4 separate regions of the Homo sapiens genome follow, and all the other regions are linked to region 1. The links come from fine-mapping of genetic effects on gene expression. A gene starts in region 1. Each other region holds a variant in brackets. All regions are shown on one strand. Distances are from middle to middle. Region 1 holds the start of B4GALT1 (beta-1,4-galactosyltransferase 1). Region 2 overlaps B4GALT1 (beta-1,4-galactosyltransferase 1). Region 3 overlaps B4GALT1 (beta-1,4-galactosyltransferase 1). Region 4 has its middle 4.5 kb from the start of MIR12117.

Evidence for each region. PIP is the estimated chance that this variant, and not a neighbour inherited with it, causes the effect.
Region 2: its variant is fine-mapped to the expression of B4GALT1 in whole blood (TOPMed, PIP above 0.99). The same link has a PIP of 0.9 or more in blood mononuclear cells, lung and monocytes.
Region 3: its variant is fine-mapped to the expression of B4GALT1 in whole blood (INTERVAL, PIP 0.99).
Region 4: its variant is fine-mapped to the expression of B4GALT1 in whole blood (TOPMed, PIP 0.99).

What each region holds. Positions count from the first base shown.
Region 1 is chr9:33,164,937-33,170,159 of GRCh38, reverse strand. B4GALT1 (beta-1,4-galactosyltransferase 1) reads left to right here and starts at 2,824. Exons shown (of 6, transcript NM_001497.4): 1 at 2,824-3,402. The coding sequence starts at 2,991. B4GALT1-AS1 (B4GALT1 antisense RNA 1) reads right to left here and starts at 3,212. Exons shown (of 3, transcript NR_108110.1): 1 at 3,114-3,212. RefSeq lists enhancers at 2,241-2,320, 1,843-2,407, 2,391-2,490, 2,408-2,973 and silencers at 2,641-3,040, 2,799-3,072.
Region 2 is chr9:33,110,711-33,115,710 of GRCh38, reverse strand. B4GALT1 (beta-1,4-galactosyltransferase 1) reads left to right here. Exons shown (of 6, transcript NM_001497.4): 5 at 1,833-1,937; 6 at 2,125-5,000. The coding sequence ends at 2,257. Among named protein-coding and RNA genes, the nearest start is that of MIR12117, 4.5 kb to the right of the region's middle. RefSeq lists an enhancer at 3,521-4,120. The variant G/A (reference allele first, on the strand shown) is at 2,387.
Region 3 is chr9:33,121,994-33,126,993 of GRCh38, reverse strand. The region is part of intron 2 of B4GALT1 (beta-1,4-galactosyltransferase 1); the gene reads left to right. Among named protein-coding and RNA genes, the nearest start is that of MIR12117, 16 kb to the right of the region's middle. RefSeq lists an enhancer at 2,124-2,173. The variant A/G (reference allele first, on the strand shown) is at 2,950.
Region 4 is chr9:33,101,600-33,106,834 of GRCh38, reverse strand. It overlaps a transcript of B4GALT1 not described here. Among named protein-coding and RNA genes, the nearest start is that of MIR12117, 4.5 kb to the left of the region's middle. The variant G/A (reference allele first, on the strand shown) is at 2,122.

The DNA.
Region 1 (5,223 bases):
TCTCTACTAAAAATACAAACAAATTAGCCGGGCATGGTGGCAGGCACCTGTAGTCCCAGCTACTTGGGAGGCTGAGGCAGGAGAATGGCGTGAACCCAGGAGGCAGAGCTTGCAGTGAGCCAAGATCACGCCACTGCACTCCAGCCTGGGTGACAGAGTGAGACTCCGTCTCAAAAAAAAAAAAAAAAAAATCTAGGGGCTGAAGATACAGTAGTGAACAAGAGAGAAATTTCCTGTTCTCATGAAGCTGATTTTCTAATGAGGGAGGCAAGACAACAGAAAATAAATGCATAATGTTGGGTAGTTGATATCCACTCTGAAAAAAATCAAGCAGGTTAAGGCCGGGCGCGGTGGCTCACGCCTGTAATCCCAGCACTTTGGGAGGCCGAGGCGGGCGGATCACCTGAGGTCAGGAGTTTGAAACCAGCCTGGCCAACATGGTGAAATCCGTCTCTACTAAAAACACAAAAAATTAGCCCGGCGTGATGGCAGGCACCTGTAATCCCAGCTACTCAAGAGGCTGAGGCAGGAGAATCGCTTGAACCCGGGAGGCAGAGGTTGCAGTGAGGTGAGATTGCACCATTGCACTCCAACCTGGGGGACAAAAGCAAGACTTTGTCTCAAAAAAAAAAAAAAAAAAATTCAAGCAGTTTAAGCAGATTTGGGCAGGAGGCCATTCTGCATAAGGTAGTCTGAAAAGGTCTCTGTCATAAGGTGACATTTAAGAGACCTGAATTGAATGAAATATTGGGGACAAGTGTTTCAGGCTAAATGAACAGCAAGTACAAAGGCCCTGAGGCAGGAAGAAATATGGCAAGTTCAAGGAATAGCTATCAGGCTAGTGTGGCTAAGGCAGGTCCAGCATGGTAGAGTGACAGATGTGGGTGGGGAGGGAAATAGGAACCAGATTGAACAGGGTTTCTGTGGATTTGGTTCTGAACAAAATGGCATGATCTGATTTATGCTTACAAAGATTTCCTGGATGCTCTGTGGAAAACAGACTAGGGAGGAGGAATGGAGGAGGTGGAAGCAGGGTGACCAATTAGTAGCTGCCATATAACCCAGGGCAAGATGATGGTGGCTTGATCGAGGATGGTTACATCAGAGTTGGCTGGTGGTGAATTTTGATGTTTTGAAGGTAGCACTGACAAAGCTGGCTGAGGGCTTGCAAATGGCATTGAGAGCAAGAGAAGCACATCAAGGACACCTTTTAGATTCTGGGGAACTGAATAAACAATAGTATCACTCTCTGAGGGAGGTAAGAACGGGAGTGGTGTGTAAGGAGTAGGTTGCTGAGGGCAAGATGTATTGTGTTTGAGATGCCAGTAAAATAAGCAGTTGAATCTGGAGGTCAGGGAAGAGATCTGGGCTGGAGACAAATCAGTGATCAGCATTTGGATATTATAAATCATTCCGAGGCAGTAAGTGTAGACACAAAAGAACATCATGGACTATGGCTGGGGCCTTCAGCAACTGGGGAAGAAGTCCAGAGAGGAGACAGAAATGGCCAGTGAAGTGAGGAAGATCAGAAGGACCTGGTGTCCAGGAAGTCAAGTGAGGAAAGTTGATTCTGTATGATCACAACCAAAGTGTCAACTCATAAGCCTTATTTTCTCATCTGTGAAATGGACACCGTAACACCACCTACTTCATGGCAGATAGTACTGGCACACAGCAAACTCTCAAAATAAGGTAGCTACTGTTATTCCCTGATGGTTGGCTGCCAGAGCCCTCAACTTCCCTATCCACATTACTGACAGCACCTCCATGAGTCTTTCTCTGGGGTGAGGTGTCTCTGCTCACTCAGGGCCTGAGGCCTCTGGGTCAAATCGAGGTCAAGTGGCTTCAGTGCCTAAGTCTCTCACCCACACAGCCTTCAGCCCTTACTTGCAAATCAACAAAGGGTAAACCTGTAGAAAACATGGGTTTCGGAGCCAGAATTCTGCCTCTTGCCAGCTGTGGGCTCTTAGGAAAGTTTCTTAATCTGCCGGGGCCCCACTCTACGACATGGGGAGAACTGCTACTTCATGGGACAGTGGGTAGCCCAGTGTAGACTGTAACGCCGGCTGATCTCCTGCACGCTGGCCTGGGAGTTAGAGGCTTCTTGCTGCTCTCCTCTTCAAAGTATACAGGACTCCCGCCACACACACATCTGGAACCAAGCTGGTCTGAGAGCCCCTTATAGCCCAGGCTACCTGATGGGGAGGCACAGAAGTGGCAACCCGTCCACTTTCTTTGCCGCAGGACCCCCCGTTAAGCAGCGGGGTCCAGCCGGGCTGAGTTAGGGAGGGGGTTTCGAACGTGCCACTCCTCGCCCGGCGTCGAAGCCCGTTTCCTGGGTAACCTTTTTCTGCCTCTCTTCCTAGCCCACCAAGGCCCACTGGCCAGAACGCCGCCGCGGCCCCAAACCACTCCAGATAACCACCCGCCAGCTGTCCTCTCCGTTCTCTCCGCCGCCGCGCTGCAGGCCCAGGCTCGCACCCGAGTCCCTTCGCACCCCAGGAAGTGGCGCGGCCTGTCGAGGGCAGCGTGGAGGAGGAAGAGGAGGCGCGGCTCAACGCGACCGAAGCTCCGCCGCAAAGGCTCGGGAGGAAGAGGGCGGTGCGCGGCCAAGCGTCGGAGCTGCAGTCATACTCCGGGGACCCCACGACGGCGCCCCGCCCGCTGCCCACCCTCCCGAGGCCCCGCCCAGCGCGCCCATCCCGCCACGGGCTGCCCCGCCTTCCCGCCCTCGTCCAGAAAACCCCGCGCCCGGCCCCGCCCCCGCCTTCGCCGGGGCCCCGCCCCTCCCCTCTCCGCCGGCGCCTCGGGCGGCTTCTCGCCGCTCCCAGGTCTGGCTGGCTGGAGGAGTCTCAGCTCTCAGCCGCTCGCCCGCCCCCGCTCCGGGCCCTCCCCTAGTCGCCGCTGTGGGGCAGCGCCTGGCGGGCGGCCCGCGGGCGGGTCGCCTCCCCTCCTGTAGCCCACACCCTTCTTAAAGCGGCGGCGGGAAGATGAGGCTTCGGGAGCCGCTCCTGAGCGGCAGCGCCGCGATGCCAGGCGCGTCCCTACAGCGGGCCTGCCGCCTGCTCGTGGCCGTCTGCGCTCTGCACCTTGGCGTCACCCTCGTTTACTACCTGGCTGGCCGCGACCTGAGCCGCCTGCCCCAACTGGTCGGAGTCTCCACACCGCTGCAGGGCGGCTCGAACAGTGCCGCCGCCATCGGGCAGTCCTCCGGGGAGCTCCGGACCGGAGGGGCCCGGCCGCCGCCTCCTCTAGGCGCCTCCTCCCAGCCGCGCCCGGGTGGCGACTCCAGCCCAGTCGTGGATTCTGGCCCTGGCCCCGCTAGCAACTTGACCTCGGTCCCAGTGCCCCACACCACCGCACTGTCGCTGCCCGCCTGCCCTGAGGAGTCCCCGCTGCTTGGTAAGGACTCGGGTCGGCGCCAGTCGGAGGATTGGGACCCCCCCGGATTTCCCCGACAGGGTCCCCCAGACATTCCCTCAGGCTGGCTCTTCTACGACAGCCAGCCTCCCTCTTCTGGATCAGAGTTTTAAATCCCAGACAGAGGCTTGGGACTGGATGGGAGAGAAGGTTTGCGAGGTGGGTCCCTGGGGAGTCCTGTTGGAGGCGTGGGGCCGGGACCGCACAGGGAAGTCCCGAGGCCCCTCTAGCCCCAGAACCAGAGAAGGCCTTGGAGACTTCCCTGCTGTGGCCCGAGGCTCAGGAAGTTTTGGAGTTTGGGTCTGCTTAGGGCTTCGAGCAGCCTTGCACTGAGAACTCTGGTAGGGACCTCGAGTAATCCACTCCCTTTTGGGGACTGACGTGAGGCTCCCGGTGGGGAAGGAGACTGACCTCTCGGTTCACGTGTCTTGCCATAGAGCCACTCTCCTGAGTGGGTTTTTCTCCTGATCGTTTGGGCCAAGTGACTTCTCTCTGAACCTCATATTTCTCTTCTGGGATAATAAATGGTCACCCTTTCAAGGGGTTGTTTTGGAAGATATTGTGAACAATGGTAAATAAGGGCTTAATTAATGAGGGTAAGCCCTCAGTAAATTGTCACTGTGTGTTCATTTCTTCCTCTGTGTGGATCGTGACCGAGAGCCCTTCCCCCTAGCCTCCTCCTGGTATGGGTACCCAAAACCTAGGTGAGCAGGGATCTCTCCCAGGGGCAGAGAGCTTGTGTACTCTGGGTGTTAGAGGGCTAAAATATAACCAGTCAACACCACGTTGCCCATTTCTGGTACTTCCGGTAGCAGCCTGAGTCTCAATTATCTTGCCCAGATGATCTGAACTCTGACCTCTAGCCTGTTTCAGCATAGGCAGAGAGCTTGAGTAGGTGAGTTTGCATTCCTCATAGCAGCTGGCTGAGCCTAGTCTGGACTTCTCTTTGACCTGTAACCTACAGGCCCACAGGCCCAAGGCAACCACAGGTTGCTTCCAGGGTTACCACACAGGTGGTTTCTCATTTCTAATGCTAGGTTTTAGATAATTGTTGTAAGTGAGGGGCCCTGGCAGGCAGGATGACATCCTGCCAATAGGAGTTTTCTGTCACTTTCCCACAGAGCCCTGGCTACTACATACTCTTGCTCAATTTCGCCAGTAATTGCGTCAATGTGTTCATATCAAGTTTGGGAAGAACATCTTGGAATTGGTCAGACGTGAACTGTGGTAATAATGGGGGCTTGTTTTTTTAAGCAGATAATTAAATTCCTTTGCATTTGATGATTATTCTGGGAAGCAGACTAGTCCCATAAAATGAAATGGACTCTGCCTTGCTGCTAAGTGTCTGACTTGAGACATGCTATCGAGTTTCTCAAAATCTCTTCCTTGTGTAAAATGTGGTTGTCGATGATTACCTTACAGGGGTTTTTTTAAGACTAAATGAGATCGTGTACATTAAATACAGGCACTCAGGCTGGGCATGGTGGCTCACGCCTGTAATCCTAGCACTTTGGGAGGCTGAGGGGAGTGGATCACTTGAGGTTAGGAGTTTGAGACCAGCCTGGCCAATATGGTGAAACACCATCCCATCTCTACAAAAATACAAAAAAGTTAGCCAGGGGTGGTGGCATCGCAGCTACTCAGGAGGCCGAGGCAGGAGAATTGCTTGAACCTGGGAGGCAGAGGTTGCAGTGAGTCAAGATTGTGCCAGTACACTCCAGCCTGGGCGACGAAGCAAGACTGTCTAAAAAAAAAAAAAAAAAAAAAAATACGGGCACTCAATACACCGTATAATAATAATAT
Region 2 (5,000 bases), 54 kb after region 1:
GGAGTAAACCAATGTCCTTTGTAAAAATCCCTCCTTTCATTATGGTCCCCTTTCACTGTGAAACAAGTTTCCTTGAGCAGAATCCTAACTGTCTTCACAGAAGCTTTGTGTTATATTTTTATTTTGGAGTATTTTCACATATACAAAAGAGATACTGTAGTATAATAAACCTTTGAGGACCTATCCAGCCCCAGCAACCATTATGGCCTGGTCAGTTCTGTCCCATCCACATCCTGGGGCTCTTTTTAAGCTGGTAAATCATTATGATGTGGGTTGTCATTTACAGTGGTAAAAAACATCTATCAGTAGCATTTGAAAGAACATTCTGCTCAGTCCTCTGGCTGTAGAGGCTTCAACCCCACCAGCCACCGATGAGCACCTTCTCCCTCCAGGAGCCAGTCTGAGCTCATTACTGAGTTTAATATCAGAATACACCCTGGTGCAGCCTTTCTAAATTGCAGTACCAGTTAACAGAAGGTGTCTGTCAGAGCAACACCCAAGTCATTCAAGTTACCATTGTGTGCAAACTTAACAGAGACCCACGTCTTCAATATAAGCCTTGAAGGAAACTCCAGTTTTAGTATGTAGATGGGGTATCAAGTGTGTGCACATTGAACATCTGCTGCATACAGAGCACTGTGCCAGGCAGGCCCAGGACACTGAAAACCTGGACATAGGGTCCAGACAGAAGCAAGCCTGCTTCCACAGAGGCACTCCTGGGCAGACACTCTGGACTGATATGACAGTGTGCAGGGCCGACAGGATACCACAGGTCTGAATGGTCAGAACAGCTGGGGAGGGAGGGAGCATCCGCAGGCATCTAGTCCCATGCTAACGCAGTGGCACTAGAAGGATGGGTGGTGTGTGGAGCAACTTTCTTGAAAGATAAAGGACCTAACACTTTCTATGCACCACTTACTGTGTGCCAGGCAAGGCCAGGAATGTTTAAGTGGTCTGGGATCAGCCAGTTCTGCCTCTTAACTAACTTTGCTGTCCTGCTCTCCAGGCTTTCATTTTGGTCCTCATTCCTTTTCCTTGGACCAACACAGAATCCTCCACCCTGTTCTGGCTGCCTCTAGTCTTGTTCTCAGCCCTCCATTTGTTTTTTTCTGCCTTTTCCCACATGTTCTGAAGCCCTCCATTCGTATACTACTTTCCAGAGACTTCCCCATGGCTAAAAGCATTTTGGAAATACTGTATATTAGGCCCCTTTCAGATACTGGCAACCGTTTGTGGGATGCTCTGAGAAGGCCTCTGTGACTTAGCCTGGCCCTTTTCAGCCCATCACCTGCCACGTCCTACCCCAGACCCTTGTCACCAGTCCCCAGGAGCTTACGTTGCTCCCTGAGGGCACTAGGCTTGCTCTCACTTCCATGCCTTTGCCTGTGCCATCCTGGCTGCCCAAAATGCTATGGCAGATACCTGTTCATCCTCAACTGGGCTCTGCCTAGGCTTGCTCCAGCAGAGGTTACAAACTCTATGCTTCTTCCTCTGTGTCTCCAACCTCATCTTCCTCTTCTCACCTCCATCCTGGCCCTAAAGGCCCTATGTTTGAAGCATTCACACTGTATATTCTGTGGGGCACACGGCCCCAGTGTCTGGCACATGGTAGTCAACACCACAAACCGCAGAACCAGTTGTAAAAGGACATGGAGTCGGAATGTGAGTTTTAACCAGGGTCATGCTGGGCTGGGTTCTGGCATGATGCTGGGTTGTGGGCTGAGTGAGAACAGCAAGGGTGATGGTGGATGGAGCAACAGTCTTGCAGCCGGGGCTCTCAGGCCAAGTGTATGGCAGCTCTGTGATAATGACTTTCCCTTTACTCTTTGCAGATTAGTTTTTAGAGGCATGTCTATATCTCGCCCAAATGCTGTGGTCGGGAGGTGTCGCATGATCCGCCACTCAAGAGACAAGAAAAATGAACCCAATCCTCAGAGGTGCATTCTTTGTTTATTCATACTCCTTCCCCCTTTAGGATGAGGTAGGCTGCAGGTCCGAGGCTCTGGGCCTAGAGGGAAATTGAGGTGGTCAGGTTACAGTGGAGAGGGAGGAGGAAGTACGTGTGATGATTTCTTCTTAAGATTTTTGTTTTAAGACAATCTCCTTGTGCTCTTTTCCTTGTAGGTTTGACCGAATTGCACACACAAAGGAGACAATGCTCTCTGATGGTTTGAACTCACTCACCTACCAGGTGCTGGATGTACAGAGATACCCATTGTATACCCAAATCACAGTGGACATCGGGACACCGAGCTAGCGTTTTGGTACACGGATAAGAGACCTGAAATTAGCCAGGGACCTCTGCTGTGTGTCTCTGCCAATCTGCTGGGCTGGTCCCTCTCATTTTTACCAGTCTGAGTGACAGGTCCCCTTCGCTCATCATTCA[G/A]ATGGCTTTCCAGATGACCAGGACGAGTGGGATATTTTGCCCCCAACTTGGCTCGGCATGTGAATTCTTAGCTCTGCAAGGTGTTTATGCCTTTGCGGGTTTCTTGATGTGTTCGCAGTGTCACCCCAGAGTCAGAACTGTACACATCCCAAAATTTGGTGGCCGTGGAACACATTCCCGGTGATAGAATTGCTAAATTGTCGTGAAATAGGTTAGAATTTTTCTTTAAATTATGGTTTTCTTATTCGTGAAAATTCGGAGAGTGCTGCTAAAATTGGATTGGTGTGATCTTTTTGGTAGTTGTAATTTAACAGAAAAACACAAAATTTCAACCATTCTTAATGTTACGTCCTCCCCCCACCCCCTTCTTTCAGTGGTATGCAACCACTGCAATCACTGTGCATATGTCTTTTCTTAGCAAAAGGATTTTAAAACTTGAGCCCTGGACCTTTTGTCCTATGTGTGTGGATTCCAGGGCAACTCTAGCATCAGAGCAAAAGCCTTGGGTTTCTCGCATTCAGTGGCCTATCTCCAGATTGTCTGATTTCTGAATGTAAAGTTGTTGTGTTTTTTTTTAAATAGTAGTTTGTAGTATTTTAAAGAAAGAACAGATCGAGTTCTAATTATGATCTAGCTTGATTTTGTGTTGATCCAAATTTGCATAGCTGTTTAATGTTAAGTCATGACAATTTATTTTTCTTGGCATGCTATGTAAACTTGAATTTCCTATGTATTTTTATTGTGGTGTTTTAAATATGGGGAGGGGTATTGAGCATTTTTTAGGGAGAAAAATAAATATATGCTGTAGTGGCCACAAATAGGCCTATGATTTAGCTGGCAGGCCAGGTTTTCTCAAGAGCAAAATCACCCTCTGGCCCCTTGGCAGGTAAGGCCTCCCGGTCAGCATTATCCTGCCAGACCTCGGGGAGGATACCTGGGAGACAGAAGCCTCTGCACCTACTGTGCAGAACTCTCCACTTCCCCAACCCTCCCCAGGTGGGCAGGGCGGAGGGAGCCTCAGCCTCCTTAGACTGACCCCTCAGGCCCCTAGGCTGGGGGGTTGTAAATAACAGCAGTCAGGTTGTTTACCAGCCCTTTGCACCTCCCCAGGCAGAGGGAGCCTCTGTTCTGGTGGGGGCCACCTCCCTCAGAGGCTCTGCTAGCCACACTCCGTGGCCCACCCTTTGTTACCAGTTCTTCCTCCTTCCTCTTTTCCCCTGCCTTTCTCATTCCTTCCTTCGTCTCCCTTTTTGTTCCTTTGCCTCTTGCCTGTCCCCTAAAACTTGACTGTGGCACTCAGGGTCAAACAGACTATCCATTCCCCAGCATGAATGTGCCTTTTAATTAGTGATCTAGAAAGAAGTTCAGCCGAACCCACACCCCAACTCCCTCCCAAGAACTTCGGTGCCTAAAGCCTCCTGTTCCACCTCAGGTTTTCACAGGTGCTCCCACCCCAGTTGAGGCTCCCACCCACAGGGCTGTCTGTCACAAACCCACCTCTGTTGGGAGCTATTGAGCCACCTGGGATGAGATGACACAAGGCACTCCTACCACTGAGCGCCTTTGCCAGGTCCAGCCTGGGCTCAGGTTCCAAGACTCAGCTGCCTAATCCCAGGGTTGAGCCTTGTGCTCGTGGCGGACCCCAAACCACTGCCCTCCTGGGTACCAGCCCTCAGTGTGGAGGCTGAGCTGGTGCCTGGCCCCAGTCTTATCTGTGCCTTTACTGCTTTGCGCATCTCAGATGCTAACTTGGTTCTTTTTCCAGAAGCCTTTGTATTGGTTAAAAATTATTTTCCATTGCAGAAGCAGCTGGACTATGCAAAAAGTATTTCTCTGTCAGTTCCCCACTCTATACCAAGGATATTATTAAAACTAGAAATGACTGCATTGAGAGGGAGTTGTGGGAAATAAGAAGAATGAAAGCCTCTCTTTCTGTCCGCAGATCCTGACTTTTCCAAAGTGCCTTAAAAGAAATCAGACAAATGCCCTGAGTGGTAACTTCTGTGTTATTTTACTCTTAAAACCAAACTCTACCTTTTCTTGTTGTTTTTTTTTTTTTTTTTTTTTTTTTTTTGGTTACCTTCTCATTCATGTCAAGTATGTGGTTCATTCTTAGAACCAAGGGAAATACTGCTCCCCCCATTTGCTGACGTAGTGCTCTCATGGGCTCACCTGGGCCCAAGGCACAGCCAGGGCACAGTTAGGCCTGGATGTTTGCCTGGTCCGTGAGATGCCGCGGGTCCTGTTTCCTTACTGGGGATTTCAGGGCTGGGGGTTCAGGGAGCATTTCCTTTTCCTGGGAGTTATGACCGCGAAGTTGTCATGTGCCGTGCCCTTTTCTGTTTCTGTGTATCCTATTGCTGGTGACTCTGTGTGAACTGGCCTTTGGGAAAGATCAGAGAGGGCAGAGGTGGCACAGGACAGTAAAGGAGATGCTGTGCTGGCCTTCAGCCTGGACAGGGTCTCTGCTGACTGCCAGGGGCGGGGGCTCTGCATAGCCAGGATGACGGCTTTCATGTCCCAGAGACCTGTTGTGCTGTGTATTTTGATTTCCTGTGTATGCAAATGTGTGTATTTACCATTGTGTAGGGGGCTGTGTCTGATCTTGGTGTTC
Region 3 (5,000 bases), 43 kb after region 1:
TGAGACTCCATTTTAAAAAAACAAACAAACAAAACAAAAAAACAAACAAACAAAAACTGTCTCTTCTGTGCTCACTTCACCCAGAATCCCTGTTGGGCTCTTCAAGGAGCTCAGTTCTCTCTGAAAGCAACTTTATAGCCTCAGTCCAGTCTGTGTTCCTGTGTGGCAGGGGTCAAGGGTATGCTCACTCTTGAGAGTGGTGTCTTTGGTTGACCAAGAACCACTCCCATAGCCTGGTCCCTAACCCTTGAAGGCCCATCTCTCTCACTCACTGGGGTGAAGAGTTTAAATCTCAGATCCAAGTTTTGTTGAGAGCTCTGAGCTACCATATTGCTATGGTTAACAATAGTTAACAATGTTAACAATGGTTAACTATGGTTAACAATAGTTAACAATGTTTAACAACTAGAGCCCAGCTGGGTGTGGTGGCATGTGCTAACAGTCCCAGCTTCTCAAGAGGCTGAGGTGAGAAGATTGCTGGAGTCCAGGAGCTCAAGGCCAGCCTGGGCAACATGGCGAGACCCTGTCTCCCCTGCAAAAAAACAACAACAACAAAAGCAAAACTAGAGCCCAACTGCTGTGAACTCATGGCTGAGTAGATATTATTAGCCCTCCACAAACTCAGCATTTGTATAATCCCAGGCTGTTTCCAGTAATTCTCTGGGGATCATCTCCCAGCCTGTCCACTGTTCCAGGATCCACACTTAGGCCTATAGGAATGCCCCGTCAGAGCTTCTGCTGCCGCTGATCTGTTACTGTTTCATGCAACCCACTCGGCCTAGTTCCTTCCTCTTACTGTCTCAGTGGGCACAGAAAAGCATACAGAGGGTGTTTCAGCAAACATTGCCACTGGCTGCAGACCTGCCCCCGGATCTGTCCTGTTGAGAGCTTAGTGCTGCGTTCTTGCATGGTGGGGAGGGGTGTGGCTCTGTGATGAGCCAGGGCATGTGTATAGGAGCAACAGTGTCTCTCTTATCACGTAGAAGTTCTGACTCATTGCGAGTCTTGGCTTTGGGTTAATGGTTCCAGCCATGTTGCTGCTGTGTCTTTTGGTGCAGGAGAGGCTGGGCACAGTTGGTCCCTAAGCCATTATGGATAAGGGATGTGTCTGCTGATATACACACATGGACCTGACATCCAGGGAAGGCAGGGTGATTGGACAGAACAGTTCTTCCAGAAGCTGTTGGAACTTGGACAAGAGTGGCCCTTGGCTTTCTGTAGTTGGTCATCTGTCCCCTGTTGCAATCAGGGGAAGGCCACACTTGCCTTCCTTAACCACAGTTAGGATTTTCTTGGGGATTAGACCAGATTCTAGCACCTGTCCTGAACCTCTCGCCCCGCCCCTACAAAGGCTGCTTGCAAGTGTAGTGCACATACACAGGGAGCAGGTGGGGCATGGAAGTGGAAGTGGAGCCCCTGCCTTTGGCCCTTGGGGGAGGCACTGTCTGCTTACCCACGGTTGTTGCCTCATAGGAATCATACAACAGCTTCCTAACTGGTCTCCTTGCCTTCAGTTGGATTGGGGCACAAATCCCTCCTTGACATATAAACCATGGTTTAAGGCTCCCTGTGGCCTAAATAAAGATAAAGCTTAAGTATCTTAACAAGCACCTAACCCTTCTCCCCAGCCTCGGTGATTTGGCTCATCGCTGCCTTCATGTTTCATTCTGGCTTCACTCATTCGGAATTTCTTGTAGTTCCTTGGCTGTTCTCTTTTCCTTACCGCCTTTACAAATGCTCTCACCATGCATGCTTTTCTCTGCTCCTACAGATGCCTTCTCTCCCAGCACCGCCTCCAGAGTCTATGTCTGGTCGATTCTGTCTGCTGTCTCCAGTCCCCATCTTGTGGCAGTCTCTGCTCAATCATTTGGGGATTTTATATGTTTTCTGGCCTTTCTTTTGGGGGCCTGTCTTCTCCTTCTAAAAGCAGCCAGTTGACCTAGAAGGAAGGGATAACTGTAACTCTTGTCTACCAACATAAGATTAGGCCCACCCTTTAAAAGCTGCGTCTTTGAAAGGGACACCTGCACCCAGCATGCTGGCTTCTCTTCACCAAGCGTGACTTCCTACGCATTTCACAGGCCTCCAGAGGTCCCCCTGACTCTCTTCTGCTGTGAGAAACTCTAATCATGTAAGCCACAGGCTAATTCCCTTGAGCCTTAAATGTTTTTAGTAATTTCCCATTCATCAGAGAAGCAGGATTTGGGAGGAATTTTGAAGCAAACACTACAGAAGGCAGAGTCTCCAGGTAGGATATCTAAGAGACATTTGGAATGGTCTGACTGTTCAAGATGGATGGGAAAGCCTCTTCCTGTAATGATAGTAGCCAACATTTGTTGTCAGGCAGTGGGGCCCCATTTTTGAGATGGGGTCTCTGTCACCCAGGTTGGAGTGCGGTGGTGCTGTCATGGCTCACTGCAACCTCAGCCTCCCCGGGCTGGGTCTTCTTAATTCTGAAAAACCCAGCTTTTAAAGGGTGGACCTAATCTTATGTTGGTAGACAATGTTGTCTCATTTAATACAATGCACATGCTCTCCCCATAACACAAAAGAGGGAACTGAGGCCTGGAGGTGTGATGTACCCCAAGTCACATAGCTAATAAATAAAGAAGCCAGCATTCCTGGGATTAAAAATGCATGTGTCTGTCACTGTGGTGTATTTGGTGCTTGATCAATGTTTACTTGAGCAAATGGAGGGGCAGAGGTACCGATGAGTGTGCTCAGTGAGGAGGGCAGGAGTGAAGCTGGGCGTCTTCCCGCCTCTTGTGAGTGGTGGGGCTTGGTGAGCTTGCCAGGGCCTGTCTTTCTTATCAAAGAAGGTGTGTGCCCCAGTGTTACAGCATTTCACCCAAAGCAGCCTAGAAAATGCTTGACTTTTCTGTCATTCCGGGGAGGACACTTTCCTCCTCCACTGTTCTGCTGGCCTGGTGTACCCACGGCCCCTGATAG[A/G]TGATAGCACCTGCTAAAGTGCACCATGCCCTTCCGTCTCACTGCATCCCACAGATGAGGCCAGGCTGGGATGAGGGAGAAAGGGAGGGATATATAGTTCAGGTTATTTTGGAAAACTGCCTGACCAATTTTAAGTCTGGGCCGGACACTGGGGCATCTCACCACGTTGAAAGGGCCGTGGCACCCCGGGCGGTGAAAGGGGCTGGAACCAGGTCTGCTTCTTGGGCTTCTCCTCCAGGGTGCCATTGCTCATGGGCCTTGGCTGCAGAGGTGCTCATTCGTGGTTCCAAAATTCCAATTCCTGGGAGAGGAAAAATGCTTAGTTCAGTCTCAGTTAGGCCTCTGCTTAGATCAAACAGCCAAGGCCAGTAGGCCCAGTCCTATGGTAGAGACATGGCCTCAAAGAGCCCTCTGCTGCAGTTGTTGGGGAGTGTACCAAGAGAAGGGAGCATTGTCCTGGGCTGGGCAGCCCTGGGGGTCTAGTGCATAGATGTAGAAAGGCTCTGTTGGTATACCTCCCTTTGCTTGTTGGAAAGTGCTCAACGGGGCTGAATTGTGTTTGACAGTGTAAGTCTGGGCTGGGGTGAGGGTTGTTACAAGATTGTCAAGATGATTAAATGAAATGCCATTTGAAACACTTATCCATGCCTTGTGTATGGTATCCCCACCAGTGAATATTCACAGTATATTATAATAATTCCAACAACTTCATAATTTTCATATGCAATTTCTAAACTTTGAACTTTTTTTTTTTTTTTTTTTTTTTTGAGACAGTGTCTCGCTCTGTTGCCCAGGCTGGAGTGCAGTGGCGCAATCTTGGCTCACTGCAACCTCCACCTCCCGGCTTCAAGTGATTCTCCTGCCTCAGCCTCCTGAGTAGCTAGGAATCCAGGCGCCCGCCACCACACCCAGCTAATTTTTGTATTTTTAGTAGAGACGGGCTTTCGCCATGTTGGCCAGGCTGGTCTCAAACTCCTGACCTGAGGTGATCCACCGCCTTGGCCTTCCAAAGTGCTAGGATTACATACGTGAGCCACTGTGCCCGGCAATTTTTTGTGTTTTTAGTAGAGATGGGGTTTCACCATGTTGGCCAGGCTGGTCTCGAACTCCTGACCTCAAGTGATCTGCCCGCCTCAGCCTCCCTAATGCTGGGATTACAGGTGTGAGCCACCACGCCCAGCCTAAACTTTGAATTTCTTTGAACCCATGACTTACACAGAATTAGCTGAACGCAGAATTCCAAATCAACTCAGCCTGTGGGACAGCCAAAAAACACAGTGTGCCTTTGGGCTCCTTCACTCACCACGCGGGGTTAGAAAACTTTGTCAGAGGCTTTAAAAAAGGAGCTCTTGTGTGTAAAATGTTTCCTTGATTCTCTTTCTGGTGCCTCTCTTTCTCTAAGTGGTTTGCTTCCCCAAGTTCCCCACCTGAGTCTGGGTGGCTGTGGCACATCTGTGCATTCTGTACGCACACAGGCAGCCTTTTGGAGTGCCAGTTTCCAGGTCTTGGTTTTATTTATTTATTTATTTATTTTTTTGAGATGGGGGTCTCACTCTGCCGCCCAGGCTGGAGTGCAGTGGTGCCGTCATGGCTCACTGCAACCTCAACCTCCCTGGGATCAGTTGAGCCTCCTACCTCAGCCTCCAGAGTACTAGGGACCACCATGCCTGGCAAATTTTTGTAATTTTTTGTAGAGGCAGAGTCTCACCATGTTGCTCAGGCTGGTCTCGAGCTCCTAGACTCAAGTGATCTGCCCACCTTGGCCTCCCAAGTGTTAGGATTACAAGTGTGAGCCACCATGCCCAGCCCAGGTCATCTTTTGAGGGCATGGAGAGAAGACTTTGAGCATCCCACTTTTGAGATTGTGTACCAGTCGCAAGCCCCTATGACACACTTTTTCCCCAAAGTAGAGGGCTCTGACTATGTTGATCCCAAGAGAGATGGGAAAGAGCATTGAATGAGGATTCCAAAGTATTGGGCCTTAGTTCGTTTCCTCATGTTGGTGTTGTGAAGATTCTGGTTAGGATAACAGCATGTGTGCAGGAGGCTTT
Region 4 (5,235 bases), 63 kb after region 1:
TGTGTCTCTGTGTCTTCTGTAGGAAGTGCCCTGCTGTTGACTTTTCCTCTTGCCCTGCGACTAACCTTCTCTGTCTTCTTGAGGGAAGTCCATTTATTTCTGGGTCATCATTTGTAAAAGCAGCAGGATCACCCCTTCCTGCTCTCCTCCCTCCCTGCCTCCCTCCCAGGGCTTCCTGGAGCATCACGGGGTAAGCTATTAAAGTTCTACCTGGTGAGGGAGGGCTGGCATGGCGTTGGAGACATCTCCCTCTTGTGCCCAATGCCATCCACGCTCCATTGCTGTCCCTCAGAAGTGCTTCTTTGTCTCCATCCTTCCTCTCACCTGCTCTTCCTTAACTTCCAAAACTCAGGCTTCCTGATCATCCCCTACCAAGCTCAGCAGGGTCAAGAGTACCCAGGGGCCTGAGGGAGAAGCACAGGGATGCGGACAGGGTGGCTGTACCTCTGCTCAGCTCCCAGGAGTAAGAAATAGGGTTAAGAGGAGCGTGGGAGCAAACTCCCTACCCAGGCTTCTTTCAGCTGGGCCATCTGTCCTTTGACAAAGGGATCTAGGATTTCCTGACCTTAAGAAGGCTCCCTTAAGTGGAAATGCAGATAAAAATCACAAAGAGATACACCAATTTGGATGGTTATTATTTTAAAAACCAGAAACACAAAATAAGTGTTGGCAAAGATATGCAGAAATTGGATCTGATGTTAGTCATTGTTGATTCAGGGTAAAAGAAAAGAAGAAATTGGAATACTTGTGCATTGCTGGTAGGAATGTAAAATGGTGGAACCCCTATGGAAAATGGTATGGAAATTCCTCCAAAAATTAAACATGGAATTACCATAGAATGCAACAAGTCCATTTTTAGCTATATACCCAAAAGAAATAAAAACAGGAGCCTGAGCAGATACTAGTTCCTAGCACTATTATTCACAGTAGCCAAAAAAAAAAAAAAAAAAAAAACCCACGAGTCCATTGATGGATAAACAAAAGGCGGTATATACATACAATGGAATATCGGTCAGCCTTAAAAGGGGAGGAAATTCTGACATATACTACAACTCAGATGAACCTTGAAGATATTATGCTAACCGAAATAAGTCAGTCACAAAAGGACAAATATCATATGATTGCACTTAGACGAGTCAGCTAAAATAGTCAAACTCACAGAGACAGAAGGCAGAATGGTGGTTGTCAGGGGCATGGGGAAGGGAAGGGGAATGGGGAGTTATTGTTTAATGAGTACAGAGTTTTAGTTGGGGAAGATGAAAAAGTTCTGGAAATGGATGGTGGTGGTGCAACAATATGAATGTACTTTATGCCACAGAACTTTACATTGGCACTCTGCCCCCGATGACTGACTTTTCAGTTGCTACCTGTTCCCATTTAAAAATGGTTAAAATGGGCCGGCTTGGTGGCTCATGTCTGTAATCCTAGCACTTTGGGAGGCTGAGGCGGGAGGATCACCTGAGGTTGGGAGTTCTCGAGACCAGCCTGACCAACATGGAGAAACCCTGTCTCTACTAAAAATACAAAATTAGCCAGGCGTGGTGGTGCATGCCTGTAATCCCAGCTACTAGGGAGGCTGAGGCAGGAGAATCTCTTGAACCTGGAAGGCGGAGGTTGTGGTGAGCCGAGATTGGGCCATTGCATTCCAGCCTGGGCAACAAGAGTGAAACTCCATCTCAAAATAAATAAATAAATAAGGTTAAAATGTGGAGGCCGGGCGCAGTGAGTGGCTCACGCCAGTAATCCCAGCACTTTGGGAGGCCAAGGTGGGCGGATCACTTGAGGTCAGGAGTTTGAGACCAGCCTGGCCAACACAGTGAAACCCCGTCTCTACTAAAAATACAAAAATTAGCTGGGCGTGGTGGCACATGCCTGTAATCCCAGGCACTCAGGAGGCTGAGGCAGGAGAATTGTTTGAACCCAAGAGGTGGAAGTTGCAGTTCATTTACTTAGCACGTCACTGCACTCCAGCCTGGGCAACAGAGTGAGACTGTCTCAAAAAAAAAAAAAAAGGTAAAATGATGCATTTTCTGTTATGTGTATTTTACCACAGTATGAAAAAATAAGAAGACTCCTGTGGTGAAGGCTTCGCCTGGTCTGTTCTGCTCTGGAGGTGGCAGC[G/A]CATGGTGGTTAGTCCCAGCATCTTCCTGGAGATTTGAGCGTGAGACGTGCTGGCTGTGTGGGCTGTGCCACCTGAGGAGGATTGGCCAGTCATAAGGACTCAGCCTGGTTGCTGAATCCAGCTGGGGACCTTGACCCCAGTGACTGGCTTTTCAGCGGCTACCTGTTCTCGAGACAAATGCTGTCCTCCCCTAAGGAGTCTGGGCTGTGGCAAAGCTATGACATAGGTACAACCGTCCTTTTGCCAGGTGGGGCTTAGGTGGAGAAGTTGAAGCCTGGACTCAGTCAAGATCTCAGGACTGGGAGCAAGGAGCCTCTTACTCCCAGGGTGCCCACTTGGTTCCCACTGACTGTTGGTGGAAACTAGGGGCTGAGCTGGAGGCTTTTTAGAGGAAGAAATGACAAGCTGGGGGCTGGATTATCCCTGGGGGTGAAAATGGAGTCAGCTAGATAGGTTATGTCTTGAAGGAGAGGAGGGTCCCCTGGTGTCAGGAAGCAGAGCCTGAACTCCATGTTAGACCCTGGATTGGAGAGTGGGCAGGACACTTGGGAGAGACAGGACTTGGTACTGGCGAGGGTACTACCACACCCATTCTGGGAGTGGACTATAGAGAAATAAATCCTAAAAGTGGACCTATCTTTTGACCTCACAAGTCAACTTCTAGGAATTCATCCTAAGAAAACAAAGTCACACCCCAAGATGTATGTGCGTCAGTGTTCGCCCTAGTGCTGTTTGTAGCCCTGGAAAATGAGAAGCCACCGTCAACGGGGGACTGTGCTAAGTAAAATGAAGTACATCCAAACAATCAAGTACTATGCAACCATTGAGAATGATGAAGTGGATCTATATTTATCGATTGGAAAGAGGCCTAAGGAAACAAAGGAAACTACAGAATGGTCTTTCCATATGAGGCAGGGAAATGTATGAATAATTTAGTGCAGAAATTACTCTGTAATTGTTTCTGGGAGCAGATGCATGAGCAAAAAATTGAAGATGATTTTCCTTCTCTACATAGCCTGGGGCCAGGCCCCTGTTCTAAGCGTCCCCGCCCCACCCTGGGCTGAGGCCTTTGTTCAGAATGTTGGCCCTGTTGAGAGGACATGCTGGGTTGTCTTCTGGGAGGAGTTGCATTCCCCATAAGTCCCCCAGTCTTGGAAGGGTGATGCAGGGTTCCTCCCCTGGGGGAATGGTGGAGGCCTGAACTCTGTTCACAGGTGGTGGGAAATGGCATGGCTGTAGGAAGGTCTGAGAAGGCAGAATGGGAGCTCAACACAGGCTGGGGGGGCTTCTGGCAATTCTCTCAGGTTTAGAAAAATAGTTACAACATTTCTTGCCACTCTTTTGTGAGGGCAATTGAACTGTCAAGCCTCAAGACACTAAAGAATGGAAAGAATGCGGTAGGAGAGGAACACTGTCTTGGCTCTGGAGGGGCGAGATTCGCCTCTTGTGCCTGATCAGAGCTCGACAAGGGGGACCCCTTTTCTAGTAGATCTTTGACTCCAGAATCTAGGAGCCCTGTTGCAGAGGGAGGCCCTGACATCTGGATTTTGACACAGACCTGAGCCTGGAGCTGTTGGAAACTCATTTCTGGGACAGATGTGGAATGCTGGACAATCAAACGTCGCCGGGGCCTTTGGAGTGCTCCCTGTGTCCTGTTGCGGTGGCCACAGTGACTTTGGTCTCCCCTGATGACAGAAGCACAGGAGAAAGGCCAGCTCCATGGCCCAGCTCTTAGTTCCCACCTTCCTCCAAGGCGGGCCTGTGGGGCAGGGAGGGTGCAGGTGGACTCGTGAACCCCTCACCCGTGTTCACCCTCCATGAGCACACTCGGCGCTTTCCCACGTACCGTGTGTTGCTCCTTACAATAATTCCAGCATGGGAAACTTAGGCTCAGGGAGCTCACATGACTTGCACAAGGTCACACAGAGTTTGGGTCTGACACAGACCTCCTGAGTCCCAGGCTAGGGCTCTGGCCACTGGACCATGACCCAGCTCCTCATCCACACAGTGTGGGAGCAGGGCGATGGAGGCTGTGAGGTTCCTTGCCCCAGCCAGGGAAGCTGTGGCCTCAGCAGCACTGCCGAGAGAAGTACAGCCTGGATCCAGGGCTGGAGCCAAGAGCACCTTTGGGATGAGATTGTTTGTGTTTTGTTTTGTTTTCCCTTTACTGTTTTAGAGGACTTAGGAACCTAGTAAACTTGACAGCGACAGTTCCGTATACCAGGGGCATTGCATTGGTGTCACCACGGTCTGGGAGATGTACAGGAATGGTTAACACTGAAACAATCCATGAGGATGCAAGGAGGCCTGAGGCGTGGGGAAGAGGGAAGAAGGGAGACTCCTGAGGGCTGGGGATGCAAGTGGACCTGAAGACATGGGGTTTTCTGCCTCTGAGGCATCACTCTGGGCAGCAACAACCAGTTCCTGCTTCATGGACAACACAGCTTCTTAATCCTCCTGGACCTGCCCTGCCTGGGCCAACACCTGGTGCTCAGGAGGGCTCAGCACAGTGTCTGTCTGAAGACTGCGGGGACCCAGAAGTCCAGGTGGAGACCTAGGATTCCCCAATAAGGCCTAGATGCCTGCTTAGTTCTCCCTTTCTCTTCTGGGCACCTTTCCTCCCCGACTGTACACCCTCTTCCCAAGGGAGAGCAATTGCCACACTATTCCAAGACCCCCCTGTAAGTTCTCAGCCAAAGGCATTTTCCTAAGCAAAGCCAGGGGCTGTGGTTTGTTTTGATGACAAGCTGAATCAAGACTGCTAAAAAGCAGGCTGTTGGGTTTAACTTCATCAACTCCAAGCCTCAATGATTTGTGTTCCATGTGGTTTGCTCTGGATAGACACTGACCTAGTGACAATGAGACTATGGAATGGGGAGAGAAGAATTGCATGCTGAGGACAGGAGAAATCTTCCCCATGAACAATTTGTCTGTTGGGCATGACATCTCATATGTCAGCTTGGGCCATTCCTACCAGCTTGGAATGCTCTGTGTCTGACTCAGATGCTGTGTGTGTCTCAAGGGCGCTGGGCTTGGTGGCCTCTGTGAATTTGGCTGGCAGATCTTGGCCCTGCTGGCTCCCAGGATCCATGGGCACTCTTCCTGTCTTGGGT